Regions from separate parts of the Homo sapiens genome. Here region 2 is linked to region 1. The links come from fine-mapping of genetic effects on gene expression. Tissue or cell type: whole blood. Region 1 holds a variant in brackets; the other region holds the start of a gene. All regions are shown on one strand. Distances are between the middles of the regions.

What was found. PIP is the estimated chance that this variant, and not a neighbour inherited with it, causes the effect.
Region 2: it holds the start of POMC, and the variant in region 1 is fine-mapped to the expression of POMC in whole blood (TOPMed, PIP above 0.99).

What each region holds. Positions count from the first base shown.
Region 1 is chr2:25,235,819-25,243,818 of GRCh38, forward strand. It overlaps DNMT3A (DNA methyltransferase 3 alpha), which reads right to left. Exons shown (of 23, transcript NM_022552.5): 17 at 5,744-5,889; 18 at 4,822-4,912; 19 at 4,484-4,632; 20 at 3,312-3,397; 21 at 1,118-1,187; 22 at 1-7. Among named protein-coding and RNA genes, the nearest start is that of LINC01381, 36 kb to the left of the region's middle. The variant A/G (reference allele first, on the strand shown) is at 3,089.
Region 2 is chr2:25,163,746-25,171,882 of GRCh38, forward strand. POMC (proopiomelanocortin) reads right to left here and starts at 4,835. Exons shown (of 3, transcript NM_000939.4): 1 at 4,753-4,835; 2 at 896-1,047. The coding sequence starts at 1,027. RefSeq lists a promoter at 4,709-5,521, cis regulatory regions at 4,860-4,872, 4,938-5,111, 5,112-5,137 and an enhancer at 4,932-4,951.

The DNA.
Region 1 (8,000 bases):
TGCTGAACTAGATGAAGAGGAGAAAAGAGGAATAAGCACGAATTCATTCACCAGCCAACACTGGTCATGCGTCTACCAAATATGCCAGGTACTCGCCAAACCCTGACAGGGCCTGGTCCACCCAGGGGGCTGGGTATGGCTCTGAGTGAGCAGAGTTCGCAGGGCAGGAGCCTCCACAGACCCCACAGCCTCACTTTTCTTCCTACTTGGAGGTCACCTGGCCAATCTTAGATCCATCTAGCCACAGACTTTTTTTTTTTTTTTTGAGACGGAGTCTCGCTCTGTCACCCAGGCTGGACTGCAGTGGTGCGATCTCAGCTCACTGTAACCTCCACCTCCCGGGTTCAAGCGATTCTAATGCCTCAGACTCCTGAGTAGCTGGGACTACAGGCGCCCGCCACCATGCCTGGCTAATTTTTATATTTTTAGTCAGACAGGGTTTCACCGTGTCGGCCAGGCTGGTCTCAAACTCCTGACCTCAGGTGATCCGCCTGCCTCGGCCTCCCAAAGTATTGGGATTATAGGCGTGAGCCACCGCACCCGGCCTAGCCACAGACTTTAGAAGTAGAAGCTGTAGCCACTGTACTTTCCAAGTCTTCCAAAGAATTAGTTCTTTCAGAGATGGAGTAACTTGTAGGCTAAAGGATGCCAAGTTACTGAGGGGCTCAAAGATGCCCTCGGAGCTGCCAGTGGTTCTGAATGCTGGAACCTGCTGACACAGAACCCAGTGCCCCAGGTAGTCACTCCGGGAGATTCCAGCTCCAGAGAGAAATGGAGCTTCCACATCACAGGAGGCTGCTTTGAGGGCTTTTGTAATAGGTTTTGGCCAAAAAATTTAAAAATGAAAAAAAAGCCACAGCACAACCAGGTCTTGGTAAAGACTCCTCAGTGTCTACCGGGGGTGATGGGCGACACTCACCAGGGAGGAAGGGCTGAAGGCCAGCAGCCCTGGGCCCTCCTCTGGCTGCCCTGCTGCATGACCCTGCACCGTCTCCTAAATTGCATTCTCCACACTAGCTGGAGAAGCAGGCGGGACAAGGCCCTGGCCACCGCTCCACCTCATCCTGCCCTTCCTTCTCCCTGCCCCCCAGCAGAGGTTCTAGACGCTGGAGCTGACCTTGGCTATCCTGCCATGCTCCAGACACTCCTGCAGCTCCAGCTTATCATTCACAGTGGATGCCAACGGCCTAGGAGGCAGAAGAGAGACTGTAACAACAGAAACCTGGATAACAGCGGGAAGGGCCCCAGCTGCACGACTCCCCTCCCTCCCCCAGCAGCCACTAGTTCACAGGGTAAGAGCCCCTTCCCCAAATCACGCACACACGTCATAACTCTCTTCAAACTCCCCGCAAACACACGAACACACACTGCAGCCATGCAAAGACACAAATCCACCAAGCGTTAATCCTTAAAGGTAAATTCAAAAGTGGTCTCAAATTGTGAACAGGCAGATAACACCTAGCAGAAAAAGAAAAAAAAAGCACAGCTATCTTTACATCAGTTAGTCTAAAATACACTGAGCTTTAAGCGTCCCACTGCGAAGCAAGCTTTGGGGGTGACAATGTTCTGTATCTTGATTTGTGGTGATTGTTACACGGGTGTGTCCACTGGATGAAATTAATCAAACCGCAAGCCTTAAATGTACTGCTTTAAAAGACTAAATTCTGGGCCAGGCGCAGTGGCTCATGCCTGCAATCCCAGCCCTTTGGAAGGCTGAGGCAGGCGGGTCACCTGAGGTCAGGAGTTTGAGTCCATCCTGATCAACATGGTGAAACCCGGTCTCTACTAATATAAAAATTAGCCAGACGTGGTGGCAGGTGCCTGTAATCCCAGCTACTCGGGAGGCTGAGGCAGGAGAATCGCTTGAACCTGGGAGGCGGAGGCTGCAGTGAGCCAGGATGGCACCACTGCACTCCAGCCTGGGCGACAGAGCAAGACTCTGTCTCCAAAAAAAAAAAAAACCAGACTTAAATTCTGCAGTTCCCTAAAGACCAAAAATTCTGTGACATTAAATATGTCACTTCTCAGGGTGCAGGCCACATAACTGACTGGCTGTCCCCTTCAACGCTGACCTTTTCTGACATGTAAGGATATTTAAGGAAGGCTTCCCTGAGCACTGGCTCCAGGATCTCAGTGTGGGAACCACGGGGCCTGCAGTCAAATCAGGTGCTCGACAGATGTCCCCGACTCTTTATGCGTGCACTGCCCAGTCGGCCCTGCATGCAGGACCTCTGCTCCTCCTAGAAGCTCAGAGTTTAGTATTTTAGAGTTGAAAGAAGCAGGCGAGAAATCCCACAGGACCAAGGTCTGTCGGGAGACACTGAGTGGTTCCATGAAAATACTGGACCTCATTAGCCCATCCATTTCCCAATATGCACATGTATCTTGGGAACTCTCGGGGGACAGTTTCAGGCCAGCTGCCCCAATGCCCCATCTCCTTCCCCTCAACAAGCCCTCGATAGCAACTCTACCAAACATGTATGAGATGGGGAAGGTCCTACAACCTCATGGGAATAGCAAGGAGGGAGATTATTTGACCGAGGCCAGGTGAAATGATGTCTCCTAGTTATACCAAGTATACCAAGCAGCCCACCATGGAGGTTTAACACCCATGACTCAGAACACTCTGGAAAACGCTTCCCTCCACAATGGACAGGGACTGAGCGGCTCTCAGCATGCTTTTGAATTGCCAACTCTGGACAATTTATTTCGCCTAAAAAGCCTTTTTATAATGCCAGTTTTATAACTGATGAAATGAATTTTCTTCATTCCTAGATATTAAAATCTTTATCTGTGTAACCTAACTGAAGAAAATCTCTCCAAAAAAGGACCTGAAGCCAACAAAGTGTGTGATTAGTAAAATTAAGTTAAGCAGAACCCTGAACTTGCATGCAGCCGCTGCAAGATTCCCTCTCCTGGAACAGGCTGTGGCCACAACTCCCCTTCCCAGCCCCAAAGCCATGCCCCATGGCTTTGCCTCAGGAGAATCTAAGAACCAGAGGGCTCGGGACACATCACCAATGTCAGAAAACCAACTACCTAACTCAGCAGCACAGGACTCTTCTTTGGTATAAAGAGAGTACTTTTA[A/G]AGGTCCTGCTTTAAGACCACTAGTTGTTGGTTTCAGACGAGTATTTTCTATACCCTGACTCCTCTTCCTCCTCAAGGAAAAGGAAATAAGGAACATGGCAGAGCAGCTAGTCATTCAGCAGAGGCCGGCCAGAGAGGGCCCGGCTCAGGGGCTTCCCCACTATGGGTCATCCCACCTGCAGTCCCAGCCCACAGCCCCCCAGGCCCAGGAGCTTTCACCAACCTGTTCATACCGGGAAGGTTACCCCAGAAGTAGCGGGCCCTGTGTGCAGCTGACACTTCTTTGGCATCAATCATCACAGGGTTGGACTACAAAACAGGAGACGGTTTGAAGATGAGCCAAGGAGGAGCATGAAACAGCGCCGGCATGCTGCTGGGGTCGAGCCTTAAAGCCTCAAAGCCTCTTACTTCTCTCTCAGGAGCCACACACTGGGCTAGCCTGCAGCCTCCAGGAGAAGCTGGAATTACACCTAGCCACATTCCACAAGCTGTCACTGGAACGTTCTAGATCAGCATTGTCCAAATGAACTTCTGCGATGGTGGGTTGTCCTCTACACTGTTCAATTCAGTGGCCACTAGCCCACTAGTACAGGTGGCTATTTTGTACCTAAAATGAGGCCAATGTGATTGAGGAGCTGAATGGTTAATGTTAATGTAAACAGCCGCATGTGGCTGGTGGCTACCATATTGCACAGTGCTGCTCTAGACTACCCAGAGGCTGGGAGAGCCCAGGCTCCAGCGAGTATGGGTGTGTTTACCATGAGCCCTGATTAGAACTCAAACAGACGCCTGCTCACACTTACAGTCAGAACACCAGCTCACAGTGTGACCCACCCCAAGACTCAGGAGCACAGGTGGGCTCAAGCTCCCAGAAGGGCCACTCCAAGCACGCCTCTGGCAGCAGAAGCCCTCTGCACGCGGCTCAGACTTGGCTCAGGGTTAAACGGGGACTCACATGATAAGGAATGAAAACTGAGCTAAGTCTTGTTTTCTTCTCAGGTGCCTGTCATGGTACCAGGGAGTGAGGATAGGCCCTTCTTGCTCAGGGAAAACTGATTTTGTCCTCTCAAAGATCCTGGTGTGTAACAAACACCATACAGAATACCCAACCCCAGGAGTCTGGCACCCCACCTGATTGAGTGACAGGTCCTTCAACCCCGGAGGTCCACACCCACAATGCCACCTCTTAGAGTGAGACCACTGGTTCTTTCCGAGGTAGGCCTCTAACCCTGCTTCCTCCCTTTCTATCCAGGAAGCCTGGGGCTTCCCAAACAGGCCCCTTGCAAAGCAGAAGTCACCAGTCCCCAGCTCCACAATGCAGATGAGACAGGATGAAGCAGCAGTCCAAGGTAGAAGCCATTAGTGAGCTGGCCAAACCAAGGTTGCTGGCTATACCTCGAGAAATCGCGAGATGTCCCTCTTGTCACTAACGCCCATGGCCACCACATTCTCAAAGAGCCAGAAGAAGGGGCGATCATCTCCCTCCTTGGGCCGCGCATCATGCAGGAGGCGGTAGAACTCAAAGAAGAGCCGGCCAGTGCCCTCTGAGAGGTCGGAAGAGAAAGCCATCAGCTGGGGCTGTCTGCATAGGACAGTGGTGTGGCTCGGGCACGGGGAGGGCACGGGAAGACAGGGTCATCGGGAATAGCTGTCCCAGGGCAGAAATATCCAAGGAGGAAGCCTATGTGCGGAAGCACCAGCTGAGAAGGTGGAGGGGACAGGATGGTACCTACCGTAGAGGCCCTTGCGAGCAGGGTTGACGATGGAGAGGTCATTGCAGGGACTGCCCCCAATCACCAGATCGAATGGGCCCCACTCCTGGATCTGGGAGGATAAAGGCAACGTGATGGGCCTGCTGTCCAGGGACAGAGGCAGACAGGAAGAAAGAGAAATTATCTGTGAACTTGGCAAAGAAGTCCTTTGACACGAAAGAGAGGAGACCCAGCTGCTCTGCAGGCTCACGACCCTAGCTGCAACCATGGACAAGTCCTAAACAAGAACGGGACCAAGTTGGATCATTTCTTAGGCCAATGGGGAAACTAGTATCACCCAGGCAGGCAACACAGCCACCCACTGGGAAGGTGACCCAAGTGGACGGCTGAGTCTGAAGGTACCTGGCATGCTGAGTGTCTTAGGCAGGGTGTCTGGGCCATGTGAATGTCCTCCAGTTGCCCTTCAGGACTCCAGAGGGCCTGTAGTCATGCTTAAGGGAAGACCCTGCCTGAGCCTCCCAGATATGGAAGCTGATAAAGCTATTTGCCAAAAGTATTGGGAGGACAGGAACCTCTCTCTAATCCAAAGAGCTCTACTAGAAACTGTCCAGAAACCAGCCCAGGGAGTAGCCAGAGCTCAAGTAGGCACTATGTTGCCCAAGCTAGTCTTAAACCCCTGGCCTCAAGGGATTCTCCTACCTTGGCCTCCCAAAGTGCTGGCATTATAGGCATGAGCCACCATGCCTAGCCCAAATTCCCATTTCAATTTGCCCTTTACCCTCTCAAGACAGAGGACAAATGGAAGATAAGGAGAAAAAGAGGCTGGGGCAAAGGGTGAAGAGAAAGAGGGCAAATGAACAAAATGAAAGGAGGCAAGGGCTGCCTCCAGGTGCTGAGTGTGCAGGGAGGGGAAGACGGGCTGCGCCCCACAGCATGGACATACATGCTTCTGTGTGACGCTGCGGACGTCCCCGACGTACATGATCTTCCCCTGGTGCCGCACCATGCCCACCGTGATGGAGTCCTCACACACCTCCGAGGCAATGTAGCGGTCCACCTGAATGCCCAAGTCCTTCAGCACCAGGAGCCCTGCACCAGCCAGCAGACAGCACCGTTACTTGGAGCCATCTCCCTGGCACCCTGGTCTCGGCAGGTGAGCCTGCTGGCCAACAGGACCCATGGGGTCAGCTGTAGGCCCAAGTCCTATCTTTTCCCTGAAGATGCCTTAAATCCTTTCTGGATCCAACTGGAGTATCCATAGTAAGGACATCGAGGCTCTGTCTCATGCCTCGTTTGGCCTATCTGGAAGGCAGTCAAAGCTGCAGAAAACTGACCGGAGAGTACATGGTTCCAGGATCCAGGAAGAATCACAGCTGACTTTTTGGGGGCCTTTTCTTTGTTGTTGTCCGTCTACAACTTGGTCCTTCCATACCCTCTTATCACCTCCTGCTACAATTCTACCCCACCCTTTGACTCAACCTGAATGTTCCCTGCTCCACAAAGGTTTCATAAATGCCCTGCCCCACCCAGTAGCCCCTGGAATCACCGCCCCCTCCGCTATGAGTCCCCAGCTCTGTGCATCCCTTGCCTCCCCATCAGAGCAGTTTCCATTCCTCACTCAGCCCTCTCGTGGATTGCAAAGGCTCTTCCAGACAGAGGAGGCCTCCTTCATTGTGCTTCCCCCGAGCTAACCACACAGATTTCCTTACCACGATCCCTCCCCCTCCAGAAATGCTAGCCGAACTGAGGCAAGGAAACAATCAGAGCAGATCCCGAGAGGGTCTCGGGAGAAACAGGGTACGGCACTGTTTCTGCTGCTCCCAACATGTCCCCCAGCCAAGGAGCTTTTACAGCCTCCTGGGGTGTGACATGATTTAAGAAGGCCTCAAGGTTCCAGTCTGGGATACAAAAAGCTGTAAATGAACTTCTCTAGGTTTACAGAAGAGCAGCATGGAGCTGAGAACAGAAGACAAACATCTGGCCGGGGAAGCCATCCCCTCCGCCTCACCCTCTAACCAGGGTCCCTGGGTTGAGACTGCCTATCTCCCTCTGGCCAAAGACATGAATTCTAAGAAGAGCTATTCCTTTCTTAAAAGCCGGGAAGCCCTTGGCTGGGGGGGCAGGGCAGAGGGGTGGATGTGTCTTCACAATCTCCTAGGACGCTTTCTGCAGTGTCCAGAGTCACATGAAGCAAACAATGCCTGCAGGGTGACCCAGCATCTCCTAAAGGTTTTCCTAAGGAGGGAATGGTTCAAGTATATATTCTATCAGGATGCTTGTCACAGCACTACTTATAATAATAATAAAAAAAATAGTAAATGACCTAATAGGGGTTCGTTAAATAAATTACGGCACTTTGACTCAATGGAACCTTACGCAACACTTACAAATAAAGAATGTAGCTTTGGCCGGGTCTGGTGGCTCATGCCTGTAATCCCAGCACTTTGGGAGGCCGAGGTGGGCGGATCACAAGGTCAAGAGATCGAGACCAGCCTGGCCAACACGGTGAAACACCGTCTCTACTAAAAACACAAAAATTAGCTGGGCGTGGTGGTGGGTGCCTGCAGTCCCAGCTACTCGGGAGGCTGAGGCAGGAGAACTGCTTGAACCCAGGAGGCAGAGGTTGCAGTGGGCCAAGATGGCACCACTGCACTCCAGCCTGGGCAACAGACTCCGTCTCAAAAAAAAAAAAAAAAATGTAGCTTTATATCGCTTGACATGAAAAAGCAATCATAATATAATAAATGCAAGGCAAGTTACAAAACCGTGTGCATTCACTACCCACTTAATTTATCTATCTATGGATGTATGGTTATATAAACACAAACGCACAGAAAAAAATCTGAAAAGGACATATGCCAAAATATTAATAAAAGGATAATGGGTGATTTAAATAAGTCTTCTTTAGACTATCTTGTGTATAATCAAAACACAACAGAACTGTGTATGTTTCTGTCTTGCTGAATCTGTCCTTTGAGGCTCTGTGAAATCTCTGTGAATCTGACTAATGATCACTCGGCCTCTGTGGCTGAATCTTCCTTACTAAGGAAGCGCCCAGCAGGCAGGCTGCTTTACCACCTGTTTTACTTTTTTATTTTTGGTCAAATCTAAGTCCACGGACTGCATACGTTTCCACTTCACACACAAGCTTCCCCTTTGGGATAATATTTTAACAGCTGTGAAGCTAACCATCATTTCGT
Region 2 (8,137 bases), 72 kb before region 1:
CCCAAGTAGCTAGGACTACAGGCACATGCCACCACATCTGGCTAACTTTTTTATTTTTTGTAGAAGTGGAGGTCTCACTATGTTGCCCAGGCTTGTCTTGAATCCCTGGGCTCAAGCAATCCTCCCACCTTAGCATCTAAAAGTGCTGGGATTACAGCCATGAGCCATCTCGCCTGGTCTCAGTGTGCCTTTTAATCTCTGGATTTGGCATCATTACTCATTTATGCCCCCCAACACACACACACACACACCCCCCACAGGCAGATACATACACCCTGTGGTGACCTGGAGGGAGCTCCTGCCTGATGCAAAGGGCCTTCACATGCTCTGGAAAGACTGTAGAGGAACACAGCAGAAGGCCAGTCCTCCAGAATAAACATGAGACATTTGGCACCAATTAAAGAAAAAAAAAAAAGGGCCCCTGGTTTTTCCTTCTTCCAGAGATGATTTGAAGAACTACCTGGCTGGTTTTGCAACCGGTAGTAGATAAAAGGGTAAGAAATATGGAATGAAAATGGCAAGTGATATGAGCTTCTTAAAAAGGAATAGTTTGGGAAGCTAAAGATTTAAAGTACAGAATAGATTGAGGGGTCCATTATTGCTCTTATAGCACCATCTCTAGCTTAAAGGGTTCAAGGTCTCCATAAAAGATGGGGCAAGAAGTAAGGATAACCAAGCAGAAATTGTGGACTCAACCCCTCTCCCTGAAGCTGCTTCCTTCCCTGATTTCTTCTCCCATTTCTTACTTCACTGCAAAGTTTTGCTCCTGCCCTGGATTGAATCACGCCTATCACTGGGAATGAATTTCCCTTTCCCCACACCCTTTTCTTTTGAGCTTTCCCAGCTCCAGTCCCATCTAATGTCTAAGCCAAGATGGCAGTCATGGCCCACGTACCAGCAGGTTGCTTTCCGTGGTGAGGTCCTGACACTGGCTGCTCTCCAGGCACCAGCCACGCACTTCCATGGAGGCCTGAAGCAGCAAGGCCAGCAACAGGGCCCCCGAGCGGCTGCAGCACGATCTCGGCATCTTCCAGGCAGGCTGAGGCTCTGCAGAAGCAAACAAGATTGGTGGGACCCCTGCAAGGAGCAAAACAATGTTGGCCACTCACCAGGAAGGACCTTGAGCCAACATTAACAACACACTCTCTTGTGGAGTTAAAGGCATTTTAAGGACAGCAGCAATGCTGAGAAAGGAGGTGTGCAGTACAGCGGTGGTATAAGTTGTGATAAGGAGGAGGGAATGGTGGGTAAACTGTGACCATTTCCCTGTTATCTTCTATTTAAACGAGACCCCTAAAAAGGTTAAGGCTGGAAGCTATTTTGGGGATTGCTTGGTTCAGCCCTTCCCATGAGAGATGGGAAAATTGAAGCCCAAAGAGAGACAATTACTTTAATGTCCATGACAAGGTAAGGCTAAGCTCCTAACAGAGAACTTTCCTATTTCACTACATTAAGCTGTAGTTCTAACATGCAAGATCTCAGGAGTGAAAGTAACTTGGGAAAAACGGAGGACCCTGAAACTCCTGCTCAAGATGGTCTTTTCCCTTTTTATTCCACCAGGATCCTATCATTCCTCTGAAACTCTATTTCCTATGAATATTAGGTTGACAGAAAAGCAAATAAAACCACTGGCCAATTTAGGCAGCATTTCGAGCAGCCTGATTTGATGTCCTGCACACAAATTACTCTGGTGATCACTATTACCCAGACTCCAGTAACTTTGGAGAGCTTCGTTTTTAAAGCAGATCTCAGTTCTTTGAAATCTGGCTCATCTTCTGGACACGTCACGTGTCAGATGTCTTGTTCTCTAGAGCTCTCAAATGTGGTCTGAAATGGCAGGATTTGAAGAGGATGCAGATGTGGAGGGGAAAGAGACCAGAAGGGAATTACCTCCTGGTGGAACAGCCACTGCAGATACTTTTGGAGAATCCAGCAAGTGCCTGTGGGCAGAAGCTGAGGTCAAGACACCAGGGGACAGTAAGGAGGGGGCATCCATGGTGCCCCTAGCCCCCTGTACCCACCCCTCTCTCCAGCACTACCCTCGCACTGCCAAATTTCCCTTAACCAGGTGGGCCCCCTGAAGCCACCTCGAGGCCGGAGATCAGCTCACCGCCAACCCTACAATCATTTTGGATTTCAGAAGATCTTCTCAGCCAGCTGCTAGAAAGAAATGTAATTAGATGAGAAAAGTAATTCACATTAAAGCGTGGATGACTAAGTGTCTTGTCACTCCTAATGAACGCTGGCATTTTAAAATAAGTTTGCCTAAAATAAATCTCTCATTTGGGGAGGCGTGGGCCAAATCTTTTTTATATAGGGGAGGCTTTGGAAGTGAAAGTCCTCTGAAGCGCTGATTTCTACTTCAGGAGGCCACTTCCTTCTCTCTACCCCACCCTCGCCCTATTCCCCAGGCGCTGGGCCTGCACGGTGCTAGCTTCTGAAGGGTTGCCGGGCAAGGCTGAGCATTTTCAGAGCAGCCATTAGATGGCACTGGCAGCCAGTGACTGGCCCAGGTGCGCTTCGGCTAAAGGGGCAACTGAACGAGCTTTGGTCAACCTTGGTGTCCTCTCCTGGCTCCAAGGGACAGGCTGTTCCCATTGTACCCTGCCAGTGATCTATTCAAGTACACAGCCAGAACTTGGTGGACCAGGCAATTAGATTAAAGCTCCAAGTTGACCATAGCACATTTAGCTCTGAAAAATGCCCAGATGTTACAGTCACAGAAAAATGGTAGTTACGTATGTCACCAAATGCAAATGTAAAGTAACATATTAGTAAAGGAAAAAACAAAATCTTACAGGTCTGATAGTTCCCTCAATTATATTTCAATTCTTGTCAAAGATAACTACTCTGGAGTGATTTCCATTTGCTAGAAGCAATGACTTCAGGCCTTCCTGGAAAGCCCCAGAGAGCATTTCCCCTCCTTATGCCCTATGTGCTGTGTTGTACAATGTGGTAACATATTCACTCCCACCCTCTCAGAGCTTATATTCTGTTGCTAAACTGGTTAGATGGCTGCTATTGCTAAAACTTCAGATTCTTCCCTGAAAGATGGTCTTGTGTTTGTATTGTATATTTTGCTTATGTGTATGTGTATTTGCTTATGTGTATTTTCAGTTCTCTACAATGAACAAATAGTACCTTTTGTGTCATTTTTAAAGCAACAAATTATTGGGGAAATATCAAATGTTGTGCTTTTTTAAGTAGGGAAAGTATTATAATCCAAAAATGGAAAGCTCTGGAAAAATAGAAACTTGAAATTTGCTCATCCTGAGATTAACTTTATAGTAGAACTACACTTATTAGAACTTCATAGGTGTGAGGGGCTCTCTATGAGCTCAACAAATCATTTTGCTTGTTACTGTAAAACTGCACGCTGGCCATGACCTTTTGTAAAGATTAGAGGAGCACAGGGGCCGAGTTTTGTCCTTACACCATGACATACATGCATCGAGTCCTATAACAAAAGCATCAAAGGAACAGTAAGTCATTAAAGTGGCCATAATCTGTGCAGAGTTTATAAACTGACACACACACAAAAAAAATCCACACACACTTTTATTTTCCTTGGCTCCTTCCAGCCATTCTGTAAGAACCCTCCCTGCCCCATTTAAACATGAAGAATTTGGGGAATCCAAATGCCAAGTGGACTGTCTCTCCTTCGCTGGAAACGCCCCTTACCTGAGCCTTGATCATTCCAAATGGCTGCCCGTGCCCTCAACCCAGGATCTGCGCCATAAACCGTCCACCCCGGTTCTGTTGAGGGCATCCGAAACTAGACAGTGCGTTTCAGGATCTAGGACAGCTCCCGCCCCGGCCACCTGTTTTTAACCCCAGCTAGGTCTTGGAGAGAAGAGACCCAACTATTCTGCATTGTAATTGACCCAGTTATCATGTAATTATCATAGCGCGGCCACCTCGGGTGCGCTAAGGTGGGCAAGGAAACAAGGATTCAGGGGTCTGAATCCGAAAAAATCCGGAAGGCAGGGCGTTCATTATGACTTTTATCCTTTTCTCTGCTGCCCCGTTTCCAACATTAATTTGCGATAGCGTGTATGGAATTTGACTTTCAAGATGTGACACCTATCCTGGAAACTGGGAGCAAGAGATACTAAAAGACCGGGCTGGCCGGGGGCGGTGGCTCGCGCCTGTAATGCCAGAACTTTGGGGGGCCAAGGCGGGCGGATCACCTGTTGTCGGGAGTTTGAGACCAGCCTGACCAACATGGAGAAACTCCGTCTCTACTAAAAATACAAAAATTAGCCGGGCGTGGTGGCGCATGCCTGTAATCCCAGCTACTCGGGAGGCTGAAGCAGGAGAATCGCTTGAACCCGGGAGGCGAAGGTTGCGGTGAGCAGAGATCACCCCTTTGCTCTCCAGCATGGGCAACAAGAGCGAAACTCCGTCTCAAAAAAAAAAAAAAAGACCGGGTTGTCCCAAGACCTCCTAGCAAGCTCTCGGAGCCTCCGGACCGCCGCGAGCCCCTGGGGGAGAGGAGGCCGCCGGCTCCCTGGAGACAGCGCCTGCAGCTTCGCGGCCGTCCGCCCAGGGGCCGGACGTGGGCCCTCCAGCTCAGCTACTGGCGGCTTCTCATGCCGCAGTCGGCGCAGAAAGTTTGTCGAGAACTCGGGACCGCGGAGAGCCAGAGGCGCCCAGGTCCGCCTTCGGAGCCGGAGCCGGCCGACTGCATCGCGAGGACGGGGACAGGGGATCCCGGGGAAAGAGCACGGGTCCCCCACGCTGCGCCCTTACCTGTCTCGGGAGGCTGCTCTCTGAGGGCGGGGACGCTCGGCGGCCTCTCTCGGTCGCGGCTCTTCTTCCCCTCCTTCGCCGCCGCTTGGTCCCGCGCTCCTCTGTCCTTATATACTTGCCGAGCTCTCCTGGTGGGCGCGGGACTTTGACCTTCCCGGCAGCACAAGGAGCAGCTCCCCGGGCCAGGGGAAGGGGGGCCGCGGGGCGTGGGAGGGGGGCTTCCAGACGGGGGACGAGCGCGGGGAGACGCGCTGGAAAGGGGCTGGAATTAGCACTGTCCTGCCGAAGGCGCACCTGGCCGCTCGCCCTCAGGAAGAACTTAATTATGGATGGCGTTGGGTCTCCGCTTAGAACGGGCGGGAGGCTTAGCACCCCCGTGTGGGGCAGGCCGGGCAGCCTCTGAGGTCGTTGAGGCGAGGGTGAAGTTACCTGCGTGCGTGCTGGGGCTGGCATCTGCCTGGTTCGCATTTGGCGGTAAATATCACCGTCTGCACACGGGGAGGCCTCCGATTTCCCCATTGTTTGGAAACTGTGATGTGGAAGTCGTGGGGAATCATATTCTCTCTGTTCCACTTTGGGGAGGGGAGGAGGGAGCAGAAGTCAGGAGCCGTCTTGTGGGTGTGAAGGTGAGTTGCACTGCTCCCCTGGGGCCTGCTCTCCAAGGGCCTGGTTTAGGGGAGGCTCCCTTCCGTGTCCCAAGCCTCAAGGAAAAAGTCCTGTTAACCTAAACCATTAAATGGGGAGAGGGTGATGCTGTGAAGAGCAGCTGAAGTGCTTTCCCTGTGGCCTCTGATCCCTCCCTTTGCCATGAGCTGGCAGGGTGGTCTGGGGACTCAGACAATTTTCAACATCCCCCTTGGCCCTGGAGTTCTGGCTTGGCTTTAGTTCCAAATATCAGACCAGAGAGAAGAGTACAGCACTCAAACCAAGCTAAGAGACTCTACCTTAACCTGGAGTAAATAAACAAAACCAAATTGTGCGATGTGGTGGGTGTGGGAGGGAGTATTGGGACTAAACTGGACTTCAAATCAAGACACTTGCTTAATCTGCCAAATGCCAGAACTTTCCTGATTCCCCATGAGATGCTCTTTTGGACTCCAGGACTCTCTTGTGGATTCAGCTTTTCTGGTGACATTGGCTTTACATTCAGCAATCCTTTCCCTTTGGACCACAAGAGAGATCCAAGCTCCGTCACAGTAGACAAGGTGCTTCATCACCCGGCTTTGGCCCCTTTCCAGGGCCATTTCCCAGTTCTCCACCTTGCATCCTGGCACTTCAGCATCCACAACATTCACACTGCTAGAACATGGCTTTCTTGGGTCTCCATTGTCCAAGCTGTTCCCCCAACTAGAACATCCTTCCTCTCTCCAGCCATCCAGGAGCTTGACTCACATCAAGATGTAGCCCATCCATCAGCCCCTGTTCTCTGAAGCCCTCTTTGGCCACTTTTCCTACCAGGGGCATGAGGCATGACCTCCTCTGCCTTCCACAGAAGTCCATCCCCATCTTGTCAGTGCAAGTGGCTTGCACTAATTCACTTCTGTCCCCATTTTTTTAATCTTCCATCCACCCCACGACCACCATCAGGTTTGTAAACTCTTTCAAGCAGATGGTGGTTTTGCCTTATTTTACTTTGTGTTATTTTTGTAACTTCAGGAGGCTGCTGGTGGCAGCAGATAAAACAAACCAGGAAAAATCCAAATGGACCCAACTTCTTTAACTGGGTTCCTTCTTTCTTTTCTTCTCTCTCTCTCTCATTCTGTTTGTTTGTTTTTGAATTAGGGTCTCACTCTGTTGCCCAGGCTGGAATGCAGCAGTGTGAACACTGCTCACTGCAGCCTCCACCTCCTGGGCTCAAGTGATCCTCATGCTTCAGCCTCCTGAGTACCTGGAACCACAGATGCATGCCACCATGCCCAGCTAATTTTGGGTTTTGGTTTTTTGTTTTGTTTTTGTTTTTGTTTTTGGTAGAGACAGGGTTTCACTATGTTGCCTAGGCTGGTCTCAAGCTCCTGGGCTCAAGTAATCCACATCAGTATCCTGAAGTGCTGGGATTACAGGTGTTAGCCACCACACCCAGCCCAGTTTCTTAATTTAATGCAGCAGAACCTGCTTTGGCCTCCATGAACTGAAAGGCCATTGAACTGCATTTAGAATCACTGGGTAGGCGGGGCACAGTGGCTCACGCCTGTAATCCCAGCACTCTGGGAGGCTGAGTTGGGCAGATCACGAGGTCAAGAGATGGAGACATTCCTGGCCAAGATGGCGAAACCCCGTCTCTACTAAAAATACAAAAATTAGCCGGGCGTGGTGGCGCACACCTGTAGTCCCAGCTACTCGGGTGGCTGAGGCAGGAGAATCGCTTGAACCTGGGAGGCGGAGGTTGCGGTGAGCCGAGATCGCGCCACTGCACTCCAGCCTGGCGACACAGCAAGACTCCATCTAAAAAAAAAAAAAAATCACTGGGCAGGTTGGGGGACCAGGATCTAAAAATGGGCAGGGACACAGTGTGGCTGGAACCATGGCCAAAATCACATCCAGTGGAGAAAAAAAAAACAGACCACAAGGGGCCACAAGGGGCATGTCAAGACCACAGGCGTCTGACATAGACGTCACTTCTGTCCCCAGGATGGGACGCTGCCATTCTCACTTCAGCTAATGCCACTAGAAAGGAGTCACCACTGCCCTTGCATCCTTGTACCACTAGCTCCTCTTTGAAAGCCTAGAACAGGTGCCTTTGATTGTCTGACATGACATAATTTTTCACCTTTATTCTAGTAATGTGGTGAATTATTGCATTGTTGATTTTTTGGTGTTAAACCTACCATGGCTTCTTAGATTAAACCCAATTTGATTATGATGTATTATCCTTATACAGAAAGCACTGGACTCAATTTGCTAATATTTTATTTAAGACATTTGCATTGATGTTCATGAGATGGGCCTGTAATTTTCCTTTCTTGTGGAATTCTTGTCTAATTTGAGTATCAAAAAATTATGCTGTTCTCATAAAACAAGTTGGAAATCCATCTTCCCTCCCCCTTTTTATAATTAAGTAGAATAATTTGCGTATAATGGTGTTATCTCGTCCTTAAATGTTTGGGATGATTCACCAGTGATGCCATCTAAATCTTTAAGATTGTTTGTTCATTGAAGTTTTTAATTACAGAATCAATCCTTTCAGCTGGAGCTGGAAAAAAGAAGGAAAAATGTTTTAAACCATTACAAATTCAATTACTTAAGTGGCACTATTTCAATTGTCTACTTCTTCATGTGTCAGTTTGAGTCAGATATGTATTTCTAGGAATTTGTCTATTTCATCTAAATTCTTTAATTTATTGGCTTAAAATTGTTTATTATATATTTTAAGCATCTGGGATCTGTG